Homo sapiens: one gene and its partner. The protein of the gene in region 1 purifies or fractionates together with the protein of each later gene. This does not show direct contact. Each region holds a gene or a part of one and is shown in the gene's direction. Other genes may lie near its edges.

Region 1 (7,279 bases):
TTCTTGGCTGGGCGCAGTGGCTCATGTCTGTAATCCCAGCACTTTGGGAGGCCAAGGCAGGCGGATCACGAGGTCAGGAGATTGAGACCATCCTGGCTAACACGGTGAAACCCCATCTCTACTAAAAATACAAAAAATTAGCCAGGTGTGGTGATGGGCGCCTGTAGTCCCAGCTACTCGGGAGGCTGAGGCAGGAGAATGGCATGAACCCGGGAGGCGGAGCTTGCAGTGAGCCGAGATCGCGCCACTGCACTCCAGCCTGGGTGGCAGTGAGACTCCGTCTCAAAAAAAAATAAGAAAATGTGAGTACTCAAACATGGTTCTTTTTCAAGATTGTTTAGGTATTCTGGGCCCCTTGCATTTCCATATGAATTTCAGCTTTTCCATTTCTGCAAAAGCAGCAGCTAGGATTTTGATAGGGATTGCACTGAATCTGTAGATTCATTTGTGGAGTATTGCCATCTTAAAATATTAATTCATCTAATCCATGAACATGGGATGTCTTTTCACTTCTTTGATTTCTTTCATTGATGTTTTGTAATTTTCAGTGTATAGGTTTTGCACTTCTTTGCTTAGATTTATTCATTAGAATTTTATCTTTTTAATGCTATTCTAAATGGCATTTTCTTAATCTCATTTTGATTGTTCATTGCTACTATATAGAAATACAACTGATGGCCGGGCACGGTGGCTTACACCTGTAATCCCAACACTTTGGGAGGCCGAGGCGGGTGGATCACTTGAGGTCAGGAGTTCGAGACCAGCCTGACCAACATGGTGAAACCACATCTCTACTAAAAATACAAAATTGGGCAGGCATGGTGGTGGGCGCCTGTAATCCCAGCTACCCAAGAGGCTAAGGCAGGAGAATCACTTGAACCCAGGAGGCAGAGGTGGCAGTGACCCGAGATCGTGCCATTGCACTCCAGCCCGGGCAAAAAGAGCAAAACTCCCTCTCAAAAAAAAAAAAAATACAATTGATGTTTGTGTATTAATCTTATATCCTGAAATTTTGCTGAGTTTATTAGCGCTAATGCTTTTTTTCTTTTTGCAGATTCGATAGGATTTCCTACATATAGGATTGTATCTCCTATGATTAGAGACAGTTTTACTTCCTCCTTTCCAATTTGGATTTTTTTTTCGTTCCTAATTTCTCTGACTTCAACTTTCAATAGGATGTTGAATAGTAGTGGTGAAAGTGAGCATCCTTGTCTTATTCCTGATCTTAGGGGAAAAACTTTCAGTAAAGACTGAATATACACCATTTAGTATAATGTTAGCTGTGGGCTTTCTATATACCCTTCAACATGTGTTTTTATTATGAAAAGATGTTAGATTTTATCAAATGCATTTTCTGTGTTTATTGAGATGATCATGTGGGTTTTGGCCTCTATTTTATTAGTATGGTGTATCACACTGATAGGTTTTTGCGTGTTTAATCAACCTTGCGTTCCTGGAACAAATTCCACTTAATCATGGTGTTGAAAATCAATTTATTTTCAATCATAGTGTATAATCTTTTTTATATGTTGCTGGATTTGGTTTGTGAGTTGCTGAGGATTTTTACATCTGTGTTCATAAGGGATATTGGTCTGTAGTTTTCTTTTAATGTCTTTGGTTTGGTATCAGGGTAATACTGGCCTCATAGAATGAGTTGGGAAGTATTTCTTATTCAATTTTTTTTGGAAAAGCTTGGGAAGGATTGGTATTAATTCTTTTTTGAACATTTGATAGACTTTACCAGTGAAAATGGGGTTTTGGGCTTTTCTTTGTAGGAAGTTTTTTGATTACTAATTCAGTCTTTTTGTTTGTTCCAGATCTGTGTATATTTTCTATTTCTTCTTGGGTTCGTTTCAGTAGTTTGTTTCTAGGAATTTGTCTATTTCATCAAGGTTATCTAATGTATTGGTATACAGTTATTCATAGTATTCCCTTATGTAGTAATCCTTTTTATTCCTATAAGGTCAGTAGTAATACCCCTTCTTATATTCCTGATTTTGGCCGTTTGAGTCTTCTCTTTTATTCCACACCCCCCCCCACACACACACACACACCCAGTCACTTTGGTTCAAAGTTTACTAATTTTGTTGGTTTGTAGTCAGCATTTTTTATCTTAGCATGGCATGGTTCTTCTCACTGCCTTTGTGACTTATTTATTAACTGCAGTATAGTAATACTGTAGCCTCTTGGCTTAGGAAAGCATAGGACCTGAGTCATTTGCCCATTCTCAAATTTCAAACTGCCCCTCTGTCTAATTTTGTCATCTGTAAAATTGGGGATTAAATGAGATCTACTATGCACAGTCAAGCTTCAAGTGGTGGGCAGGTAACTGGGTTCCCTTAGTAGCTGAATGAGTCTCTGCTGGAATCCATCCTCATAAAACATGATCTCAAAATTGGAACCCAGTAAATTTCTGCACGCTTGTCAGGAGCACCTCACCCCAGGACCGAGCACACAGTGAGTTCTCAGATGCTCCACATAAACACAAGAAAAGCAGCTCGTGGCACAGTTACATTTTTTTCTCTTCTGTAAGCCCATATGGTTAGTTGTGAGAACCAAAGAAGGATTCTTTCCTTCCAAAATTATGGGTTATTTTCTTTCCTTATTTCAAAAGCAGTATGTGAGCATTTCATGGGGAAAAAAAATGAAAACTAAGCCCAAAAACCAGAACACCCACAATTGTATCTGTCCAGAGATAAGCAATGTTGACCCTTGGCTTGGGGAATATAAGGAGAAGTCACTTTCAGAATACTGTTCTCTAGATTCTCCTATCCAGACCTCTGGAAAAGGTAGTTATTCCTCTTGTATTTGGGGACACTTTACCCAGAAACAAAGGACATTCATCCTCGAGCGTTGGTTTCCCACCCTGCTGAACATTGGAACTCCTCACGGAGCTTTTTAAAAATACAAATTCCCGGCCAGGCGCAGTGGCTCACACCTGTAATCCCAGCACTTTGGGAGGCCGAGGCAGGCAAATCACGAGGTCAGGAGTTTGAGACCAGCCTGGCCAACATGGTGAAACCCCGTCTCTATTAAAAACACAAAAAATTAGCTGGGCATAGTGGCAGGTGCCTACTATGCCCAGCTACTCGGGAGGCTGAGGCAGGAGAATCGCTTGAACCCAGGAGGCAGAGGTTGCAGTGAGCAGAGATCACACCACTGCACTCCAGCCTGGGTGACAGAGTGAGACTCTGTCTCAAAAATAAATAAATAAACAAACAAACAAACACATTCCCAGAGAGCACCTCAGATCCATTGAATCAGTCTCTGGAGGTGGGGCGCAGGCAGCTGTGATTGGAAGCAGCCTGGTAGGGAGGGGGATGACTCTTGAGTGACTTGCAGATGAAGATACCTAGTCCCAAGCTGGCTGAGGGGCCCAGATAGATCTCCAACTGGGCACTTGACCTCTGAACTCCCAGAGGACAATTCTTACTTTCCCTGCTAAGCCAGGACTGTCTGGTCCCATGCAGTTTGCCTGGTATTGGTCTGAGAGTCCTCGGGGCTGGGTGATTCTGAGCAAGGATCATATGGTGTTGGCCTGGTATCCCCAGGGAAGTGTACCAAGCTCACAGTATGTCGGCACTGATGTTTGGAGGGATTCCAGGAGTCCCAGTAACTGCATAGCTGGATCCATCTTTTAAACACATTATTCCAAACCTACACATCTTGTCTTTTAAAACACTCACAGGAGAAACCATTTCAGTAGAAGTTTCCTGTCTATATTTATATCATAAGCACCAAAGGTAACAAATTCTAGTTATTATCCATGTTGTTTCGTCTCTGTCTATATTTTCCATTTCCAAAAGTGCATTAGTGCCTTGATATTTTTCTCAGAAAATCACACTCTTCCTCTTCTCCTTTTTCCTTTAGAGATATGAATCAGGTTCTTGATGCCTATGAAAATAAGAAGCCATTTTATCTGTACACGGGCCGGGGCCCCTCTTCTGAAGCAATGCATGTAGGTCACCTCATTCCATTTATTTTCACAAAGTAAGTATTGGATCTTATGGCTTTTCTTACTCTCTTAGTGAATTGAGAATGTTGCTTATAAACCATGTTTAGAACTGACAAGATCATGCTAGTTCATTTGCTGAGCAACCAAGATGTCAAGAGTTGGCACTTTTTTGGCTTCCATTCACTTTGTTCCTGGGCTCACTTTAGAGGACCATGGAGTGATGGGGAGAGCGCAGCTTTGGAGTCAGCCAGGCCTGCTCCTCTTCTCATCCTGCTCCCTGTCTGCATGGCCATGGGCCTGCTACTTCTCTGAGCCTAAGTTTCCACATCTGCAAGATGAGAATGAAGATACCTACCTCATAGAACTACTGTAAAGCTTCAAAACAAAGTGTGTAGAGCAGCTAACACAGAGCACACAGGGCCACCTGGTCGATAAATGGTAGTAGACCTTATCATTATCCATAGTCAAATTCATATCACAATTCAAATTGTGATTTTGTAGGCAAGGAAGTTTTAACATACGTTGTAAGTAGGAGCTGTGTTTTCAGATGCACGATGGCGTTCCTCCACAGGGGAGATGAGACGTCAGCTTTCTCCCCCTGTGTTTCTTTAGGTGGCTCCAGGATGTATTTAACGTGCCCTTGGTCATCCAGATGACGGATGACGAGAAGTATCTGTGGAAGGACCTGACCCTGGACCAGGCCTATAGCTATGCTGTGGAGAATGCCAAGGACATCATCGCCTGTGGCTTTGACATCAACAAGACTTTCATATTCTCTGACCTGGACTACATGGGGTAAGGAGAAAACGTCTGGCTGCCTTTTCAATAGGTAGAGGAGGATGTCAAGTTGTCATGACCACAGCTAAATTCGAAACAACTGAAATGGTCTTAAGGCCTAGTAAATGTTCTTCTTCCTTTATTAAATGCTATGAGTGGCCAGCCATGGTGGCTCACACCTGTAATCCCAGCACTTTGGGAGGCCGAGGTGGGCGGGTCACGAGGTCAGGAGTTCAAGACCAGCCTGACCAACATGGTGAAACCCATCTCTATTGAAAATACAAAAATTAGTTGGGTGTGGTGGCACGCACCTATAAGCCCAGCTACTCAGGTGGCTGAAGCAGGAGAATCGCTTGAACCCGGGAGGTGGAGGTTACAGTGAGTTGAGATCACGCCATTGCACTCCAGCCTGGGCAACAGAGCGAGACTCCATCTCAAAAAGGAAAAAAAAATGCTATGAGCTGGTTTATTGGTTTTATTTACCAATAATTTTGAAAGTGAAAAGCTGTGTATGTACATAGAAAGGATTAAGTGATATCAGTATCTTAAAGACTCGATTATTGTCTCCATAATTACATTTACAGAAATTTAAAATATGGGCTCAGCCACAGCATGATGGCATCTCAGATCTTCATCCTCAGCTGTGCCAGGAAGTCCTGCCTTGCAGTTTCTTGCCAAGGATAGTCAGTCTTCCAGAGTTATGTCTTCCTCCTTTTCAACGCACCTTTTCCTCACAGAGAAAAGACTCAGTGGTTACACAGTTTCCTCAGTCTAGTTCTTTTAATCAGCCATTTAATAAACCAAAATATTTCATTCTGAAAATCCTTCAAGTTTCATCCCAAATGATTACCAAGAAATGTGTTAGAAAAATAAGACTTTGGTCAACCATCACAAGAAGGATACTATCTAGCTCAACAAATATTTCTTGAGCACCTGAGTTGTGGTACTCCCCTAAGGTGAGATACTCTTCTAAGTCATAGTACTCCCCTAAGGCGTGGTCTCTCCTAAGGCATGGTACTCCCCTAAGGCATGTTACTCCACTCCCCAAAGACGTGTTACTCCTCCCCTAAAGTGATTCCCCAGGAGGAGTGGGTTCATTGCTATGCTCCTGCAGCCCAGGCTGGGCTCTGAGCAGGCCCTCCCATGTTAGCTCACCATCAGGGACCATGCCGAGGCAGGATAAGAGGGACACTAAAGGGGCAGGTGAGCAGTGAGCACAGGAGGACTTGCTTAGAGCCGCATCCCCAGAACGTTCCCTCTTATAAGACCTTAAAACTGAGTAGTGGCAGCCAGGCGCGGTGGCTCATGCCTGTAATCCCAGCACTTTGGGAGGCTGAGGTGGGTGGATCACAAGGTCAGGAGGTCAGGAGTTCGAGACCAGCCTGGCCAATATGGTGAAACCCCATCTCTACTAAAAACACAAAAATTAGCCGGGTGTGGTGGCGTGCTCCTGTAGTTGCAGCTACTTGGGAGGCTGAGGCAGAAGAATCGCTTGAACCTGGGAGGCGGAGGTTGCAGTGAGCCGAGATCATGCCACTGCATTCCAGCCTGGGCAACAGAGTGAGACTCTGTCTCAAAAAAAAAAAAAAAAAAAAAGAAAGAAACTGAGTAGTGGTTTTATATCCATTGAGAGCAATGTATACCCTGATAGGAAATCTCGCCCTTCTATCAGCCAGTAAAACTGTTAGCTTTTTCTTTTTCTTTTTTTTTTTGAGACGGAGTCTCGCTCTGTCACCCAGGCTGGAGTGCAGTGGCACAATCTCGGCTCACTGCAAGCTCCGCCTCTCAGGTTCACACCATTCTCTTGCCTCAGCCTCCCAAGTAGCTGGGACTACAGGTGCCCGCCACCATGTCCGGCTAATTTTTTGTATTTTTAGTAGAGACGGGGTTTCACTGTGTTAGCCAGGATGGTCTCGATCTTCTGACCTCATGATCTGCCTGCCTCGGCCTCCCAAAGCACTGGGATTACAGGCATGAGCCACCACGCCCAGCACCTATTAGATCTTTTAAAATTACTTCTCTTGGTTCAGCCATGTGAGCATGGAGGCCCTGTGGCATCCTTGAAGGAAGGAAAATAGACAGGGATCCAGATCCTGGCACCTGGGTTTAGTGGCTGTGTGTCATAGCAGCCGTGTCCATGAAATGGGATCAAACAAGAACATAGATGTCATCATTAGCATAATTTTCTTTTTTTTTTTTTTTTTTGAGACAGAGTCTCACTCATGGGTTTTGCCATGTTGGCCAGGCTGGTCTTGAACTCCTGACCTCAAGTGATCCTCCCCGCCTCAGCCTCCCAAAGTGCTGCGATTACAGGTGTGAGCCACCATGCCCAGCCGTGTTAGTATAATTTTCATGGCACTTTATTTCCTTATTCTCACCCCATTCCATACAATGATTCAACTGATTGAACCTCTGCAGAGACAACTGTGGGTTCTGCTTCTCCTTTTCCAGTCAGGCAGTGCTGCTGGCATTGCCCAGTAGCTGCTATCCTCTTCCCACACCACCACTGCCCCCACCAGCCAGTGATCTCCCTAAAACTCAGAGCTA
Region 2 (7,279 bases), on another chromosome or scaffold:
GGAAAAGTTGTATTTCTGTAGTTATCAGCTAACATTTCTTTTAAACTTCCAGCATGGATATTTGGGAATTTATTTACATATTTATTACAAAGCTCTGGATCTTGGGGGTTTCATTAAAAATTATTTTTTTAACTGACAGTTTCTGTTAATCTACTTTGTTAAATCCAGTATTTGCTGAGATCCCCCTATTGTCTCTACTTTTATCTTTTTTTTTTTTTTTTTTTTTTTTTTTGAGACGGAGTCTCTGCATTGCAGTAGTACAATCTCGGCTCATTGCAACCTCCGCCTCCCGGGTTCAAGCAATTCTCCTGGCTCAGTCTCCCAAGCAGCTGGGACTACAGGTGCCCGCCACCATGCCCTGCTAATTTTTGTATTTTTAGTAGAGACAGGGTTTCACCATGTTGGCCAGGCTTGTCTCAAACTCCTGACCTCAAGTGATCCTCCCGCCTTGGCCTCCCAAAGTGCTAGCATTACAGGCGTGAGCCACCCTTCCCGGCCACTGCTTTTATCTTGATGTATAACTGAGTTGATGCTAGATTTCAATTCCTTCTTTGTCCTTTTACTATTCTGTCCTATAGCCACCTTTATATAATGATCAAAGAAATTCGCAATTTGTTATTATCATTTTTATTTTTTATAAAATATTTAAAATGATTTAAAATAAAAATCATTTTATTTTTATCATATTTATTATCATCTGTTATCATTTTTATTTGGATGACTATTTACTTTGCCATTAACTAGCAAGCGGTAAAATTGTATGATATGCAGTTTTAACTGAATTGCTATAAGTGAAAATTTAAATGCAATAAACCATATTGATGGTATTTGTGTTAACAAACTTAAAATGAGCATTTTTTCTTCATCATGAGTAATATAACCTACCCCTCAATGAAAATCTACAATTAGAGTAAATTTGCTAATGAATTCAGTAACTTTTCCATATTTTTAGTGGTTTACTTAAGGTTCTCTTAGTGTTTCTCCCAGTTTTTAATAGCTTACACCTTTTTTGCCCGTGGTTTTTTGTTTTTTGTTTTGTTGTTGTTTTTTTTTTTTTTGAGATAGAGTTTTGCTCTTGTTGCCTAGTCTGGAGTGGCACGATCTTGGCTCACTGTAACCTCTGCCTCCCAGGTTCAAGCAATTCTCCTGTCTGAGCCTCCTGAGTAGTTAAGATTACAGGTGCCCGCCACCATGCCCAGCTAATTTTTGTATTTTTAGTAGAGACAAGGTTTCACCATGTTGGCCAGGCTGGTCTTGAACTCCTAACCTCAGGTGATCCACCCACCTCGGCCTCCCAGAGTGCTGGGATTACAGGCGTGAGCCGCTGCGCCCGGCCTCATGTTTTCTATTGGTTCATTATGAAGCAAAAACTTCATAGCATGTGCTACCTGGAAGCACTGTAACCTAGTGGTAAGATCATAGGCTCTGGGGACACAGTGCCTTGCCACGTCTCTTCTCCTGTCTGAGTCTTAGTATCCTCTTTTGTGGTCATGAGAACTGAAGATCTATCCTGGAGATTGATAAGATAGTAAAGTGCTTCACGTAATACCTGGCATACATGTAATAAATGCTTCCTGTGTGTATATATATACACACATATACATATATATGTATATATACATATACACATATACATATATATATATATATACATAAACACATATACATATATATATAACACAGTGAAACCCCCGTCTCTACTAAAAATACAAAAAATTAGCTGGGCGTGGTGGCGGGCACCTGTAGTCCCAGCTACTCGGGAGGCTGAGGCAGGAGAATGGCGTGAGCCCGGGAGGCAGAGCTTGCAGTGAACCGAGATCACACCACTGCACTGCAGCCTGGGAGACACAGCAAGACTCCATCTCAAAAAAATAAAAAAAAAGTTAAAGAGCACTACAGATTCAATGATTTATTATTCTTTTCTACAAATTGTGTTTAAATGATATCTCTTTCTCTTTTTGTCCTTATAGCTCAAGCCATAAAAGCCAAAGGTCCGGTGACGATCCCGTACCCTCTTTTCCAGTCTCATGTTGAAGATCTTTATGTAGAAGGACTTCCTGAAGGAATTCCTTTTAGAAGGCCATCTACTTACGGAATTCCTCGCCTGGAGAGGATATTACTTGCAAAGGAAAGGATTCGTTTTGTGATTAAGAAGTAAGACTCTTGGATTCCTGTTGAACTCTTGTCTCTTTTCTGAGTAATACGTCTTTTTTATTGTTGACCAATATTCATTCACCACTAGGTTCTATGTGATGAAGTTTGAGTTATTTTATGTATTTTTATCTTGCACTTTTTAATTTATCTGGGTCCAGCATTGCATCAGTCATGCAGTGTTGGCATTCGAAGCATGAACAGTGCCCGCACTGGATTGGCATGCAACTCACATTTTCTTTCACAATTTTCTGCTACTTTTGCTAAAGAACATAGAATCCACGCCTTGTTTTTAGGCCTGATATATATATATATTTTTTTTTTCGAGATGGAGTCTCACACTGGAACCCAGGCTTGAGTGCAGTGTCGCAATCTCAGCTCACTGCAACCTCTGCCTTCCAGGTTCAAGCGATTCTCATGCCTCAGACTCCCGAGTAGCTGAGATTACAGGCGTGCGCCACCATGCCTGGCTAATTTTTGTATTTTTAGTAGAGACGGTGATTCACCATGTTGGCCAGGCTGGTCTTGAACTCCTGACCTCAGATGATCTGCCAACCTCGCCCTCATAGGCCTGAGATTTTTAAAGCATGCGTGGGAATATATGATTGTTTTTATAGATGTGCAGAGGAAGATAGTCTTGAATGCAATATGACATTAAAGGATCCCATTTAAGATTTTTGTAATATGCTTCAAAGACCTGTGGGTTGCAAAGTTACCTCTTTACTTGTGAGGATACATGCTCCATGAAGCACCTTATGAGACAACTTGCAATTATTAGTTTGCTTTTTACTCTGTAGAAACCTCAAATTAAGATTTAGTTGTGGGCTGGGTGTAGTGGCTCACACCTATAATCCCAGCACTTTGGGAGGCCAAGGCGGCTGGATCACCCGAGGTCAGGAGTTCGAGACAAGCCAGGCCAACAATGGTGAAACACTGTCTCTACTAAAAATACAAAAATTGACCAGGTGTGGTGGTGGGCGCCTGGAATCCCAGCTACTTGGGAGGCTGAGGCAGGAGGATTGCTTGAACCCGGGAGGTGGAGGTTGCAGTGAGTCGAGACTGCGCCATTGCACTCCAGCCTGGGAACAAGAGCAAAACTCCGTCTCAGGAAAAAAAAAAAAAAGATTTAGTTGTGCTCAAGCATCCAGATTATCTTTTCTTTTCAAAACCAGCCTTACTGACTAAATGTTAAATATGTACTAGTCGTTATTAGTTTGCTGAATATTACCTAGTGATTATTGAGTATTTATTCTCACCTTTCAGACATGAGCTTCTGAATTCAACACGTGAAGATTTACAGCTTGATAAGCCAGCTTCAGGAGGTAGGTCTTCAATCTCGAGGCAGATCAGAAGATTATGTGCAATAATTATTTCACGCTTAACATTGATTTCTTCTTTATGTTACCTTCCACATGAAATAATATGTCTCTAACTATTAATTATGTGCCATTACAGGAGAATTCATGTTGTCAAAATTCTAATAATTTCTAGAAGAATAAACGCATCTTCTTTTTATTAACCCATTGTAAATACTTATAAATATTGCATTTATGGGTAGACAGAAGTAAAAGAACAATATTTGTTCTACTTTTGATGCAAGATTTATCTGGCATAATGCATTGAACAGTTTATTATTGAAGTCTACACGAGTCAATGGAACAAGCATTCATTGAATGTCCATGATATGCAGGACATAAGAAGGTTTCCTTTTAGAGCATGGAGCCATTTATATCATCTCTTAATTGTTAGATGTATTTTGTTTTGTTTTGTTTTGTTTTTTGAGAGGGAATCTTGCTCTGTTGCCCAGGCTGGAGTGCAGTGGTGCGATCTCCGCTCACTGCAACCTCCCGCCTCCTGGGTTCAAGCAGTTCTCCTGCCTCAGCCTCCCTGTAGCTGGGATTACAGGTGCCTGCCACCATGCCCAGCTAATTTTTGTATTTTTCGTAGAGACAGGGTTTCACTATGTTGGCCAGGCTGATCTCAAACTGCTGACCTCAGGTGATCTGCCCACCTCGGCCTCCCAGAGTGCTAGGATTACAGGCATGAGCCACCGCGCCCAGCCTGTTAGATGTGTTTTAAAATAAATAGAAATATAATTGATTTTCTTGCTTGCTTTTGCTCTGGAGTGGAGTGGAGTGAGGATAAAACAGAATGGAATCACCCTGTTGATATTTACTAAGATAGAAGGACTGCAGCAAGATCATAGCCCTAATCTTCCTGTAGCAAGTGTTACCTGCTAGCTGTTCCTGAATACACTGAGTTTTGCTTTTTCCTAGCTCTAATGAATGTTTCGTTCTTCCTCTTTTTGTACAGTGTCAGCATTGTTTTAGAAATAAATACATTCTAGAATCTTAGGAATAATTTTATTATTGTCTTTTTTTTTTTTTGAGACGGAATCTCATTCTGTTGCCCAGGCTGGAGTGCAATGGCGCAATCTCAGCTCACTGCAACCGCTGCCTCCTGGGTTCAAGCGATTCTCCTGCCTCAGCCTCATGAGTAGCTGGGACTACAGGCGTGCGCCATCACGCCTGGCTAATTTTTGTATTTTTAGTAGAGATGGGGTTTCACCATGTTGGCCAGGCTGGTCTCAAACTCCTGACCTCAAGTGACCCGCCTGCCTCGGCTTCCCAAAGTGTTGGGATTACAGGTGTGAGCCATTGCACCTGGCCACGAATCTTAGAAATAATTTTGGCCATAGGAAAAGGAAAAGTTATACCTCTTATTTTATAGTAATAATGTTTAATAATCAAGTTATTAAACCCATTAAATTGAGAACACTTGTATTACTGTTATTTTGACAGTAAAGGAAGAATGGTATGCCAGAATCACTAAATTAAGAAAGATGGTGGATCAGCTTTTCTGCAAAAAATTTGGTAAGTCTGTTTTTTTTAATTACCCCTTCAACTAAAATGTATTACTGAGTAACATTTTTTTAAATGTTGTTTTATTTTAGGAAAGTAAATACAGTGAATAGGACTCAGCTTTAGTTTTCCCTGTTTTTTTTTTTTGGGTTTTTTTTTTTTTCTTGAGAAGGAGTCTTGCTCTGTTGCCCAGGCTGGAGTGCAGTGGTACGATCTCAGCTCACTGCAACCTCCTCCTCCCGGGTTCAAGCAATTCTCCTGCCTCAGCGTCCCAAGTAGCTGGGATTACAGGTGCCCGCCACCACGCCTGGCTAACTTTTGTATTTTTAGTAGAGATGGGGTTTCGCCATGTTGGCCAGGCTGGTCTCAAACTCCTGAATTCAGGTGATCCACCCGCCTCAGCCTCCTAAAGTGCTGGGATTATAGGCGTGAGCCACCGCGCCCGGCCCCCATTCTATGAATTATCTGTGGAAAGTTATTTCCTTTAAAATGGCATGCTCGTGAGGTTGAAGGGGTAAAGAACATTGATCTGGTTGCCACGCAGATGAAAGTGTAGTCGGAAATGTGTTACCAGTTTGCCATAGCCGATGGAGGAGGGTAATTACGGTCCTGAACAGTTAGTAGCAAAAGGCTGCTTCCAGATAGTATTTAGGTTGTGTCCTCTATTGTCCATGATGATTTTCTTTCTCTCTTTTCTTCCTAAGGATATTGAAAAACAAACTTTAATCTTTTAAAGATCTCAGAGCTATTAAGATTGTCTTAGGACCAGGACACTTAAATCTGCCCAAATCTGGCTGTTGATGATCGGTCATCTCTACTTGTCTTTGCTGTATTAAGTCTATTCAATAGTTAATAAATATGTTTCTAGAAAGAGTTTTTTTCAAGTAAAACAAAATTGACCTGTGCCTTTCTTTGGATTGTACTAAAATCTGATTTCAATACAAATGTAGTCTCCCGAATTGCTTTGATTTTTGTCCAGCGGAAGCCTTGGGGAGCACTGAAGCCAAGGCTGTACCGTACCAAAAATTTGAGGCACACCCGAATGATCTGTACGTGGAAGGACTGCCAGAAAACATTCCTTTCCGAAGTCCCTCATGGTATGGAATCCCAAGGCTGGAAAAAATCATTCAAGTGGGCAATCGAATTAAATTTGTTATTAAAAGGTAAGATGATAATCTGTAGAAATAGTTTCAGTGTCTTCCCTGAGAAGAGGTTAATTTGATGAAGAAGGGCCTTTTGTTTACCTTATGACTTATTTCTATTGACAATGAAGGCATTAATATTTAGATTCACTTAGTGAACAAATATTAGTATAAGCATCAGATGTGCAAAATTGGGTCTAACAAGAACACTGTCCTTGGGGCCTTCATACAAAGAAAAATGCACTGAAGGCCGGGCGCGGCAGCTCACGCCTGTAATCGCAGCACTTTGGGAGGCCAAGGCAGGTGGATCACTTGAGGTCAGGAGTTCAAGACTAGCCTGGCCAACATGATGAAGCCCCATCTCTAGTAAAAATACAAAAATTAGCTGGAAGCGGTGGTGCAAGCCTGTAGTCCCAGCTACTCGGGAGGCTGAGGTTGGAGAATCACTTGAACCCTAGAGGCGGAGGTTGCAGTGAGCCGAGATCGTGCCACTGCACTCCAGCCTGGGCAACAGAGCGAGACTCCATCTCAAAATAATTAAAAAAAAAAAATAGAAAAATGCAATGAAGTGTTATTGAGCGTTTTTAAGGGAGAAGGCAAGGATGGCACACCCAGCTCGGTCACTTGTGCATCCAGAAGAGATGGAAGGTGTTTCAAGTGAAGGAAATCATATGAGTAGGGGGAGGAGGTGGCAAATATGCCTGCGTATCCACAGAACTCACCCACCGTGTGTGGAGTGAGGACTGCCACGTGGGCGTGGTGGGGTTGCATGGATCGACTTGGGTGGGCAAGTGGAGGAAGGCCTGAGATCCTACGAACACAGAGGCAGTCACGAAGTGGTCTCGAGGCAGATGCCTCTGAAAATAATGTGGATCCGCCCTTTAGAAAGGTAATTCTGGCTTGATTTTGAAGGATAACACAATGGTTAGTTTGGGTGCGGGGTTAGGAACAGAAGGCCTCTCTCCACTCATTGACGGGATGTGGAAGGGTAAACCTTCCTTACTGATTGGGGTCATGCCTCTGTGTGTTTGTTGGGACTGAGTTATAAGGGATAGGAAACGTTTAAGATGCTACAGCGAGCTGCTTCTGGCTGTGCTGTGGGACAGTTCATGTAAGATTCAGAAA

Evidence for each region.
Region 2: the proteins of WARS1 (region 1) and GTF2I fractionate together in Homo sapiens (co-fractionation; 2 studies listed by BioGRID). This does not show direct contact.

Annotation. Positions count from the first base shown.
Region 1 is NC_000014.9:100,351,158-100,358,436, reverse strand, and holds part of WARS1 (tryptophan--tRNA ligase, cytoplasmic), read left to right. Parts: intron 1-3,870; coding exon 3,871-3,990; intron 3,991-4,567; coding exon 4,568-4,750; intron 4,751-7,279. UniProt on the Homo sapiens protein: Catalyzes the attachment of tryptophan to tRNA(Trp) in a two-step reaction: tryptophan is first activated by ATP to form Trp-AMP and then transferred to the acceptor end of the tRNA(Trp).
Region 2 is NC_000007.14:74,730,509-74,737,787, forward strand, and holds part of GTF2I (general transcription factor II-I), read left to right. Parts: intron 1-1,970; coding exon 1,971-2,154; intron 2,155-3,414; coding exon 3,415-3,473; intron 3,474-4,952; coding exon 4,953-5,024; intron 5,025-5,991; coding exon 5,992-6,175; intron 6,176-7,279. UniProt on the Homo sapiens protein: Interacts with the basal transcription machinery by coordinating the formation of a multiprotein complex at the C-FOS promoter, and linking specific signal responsive activator complexes.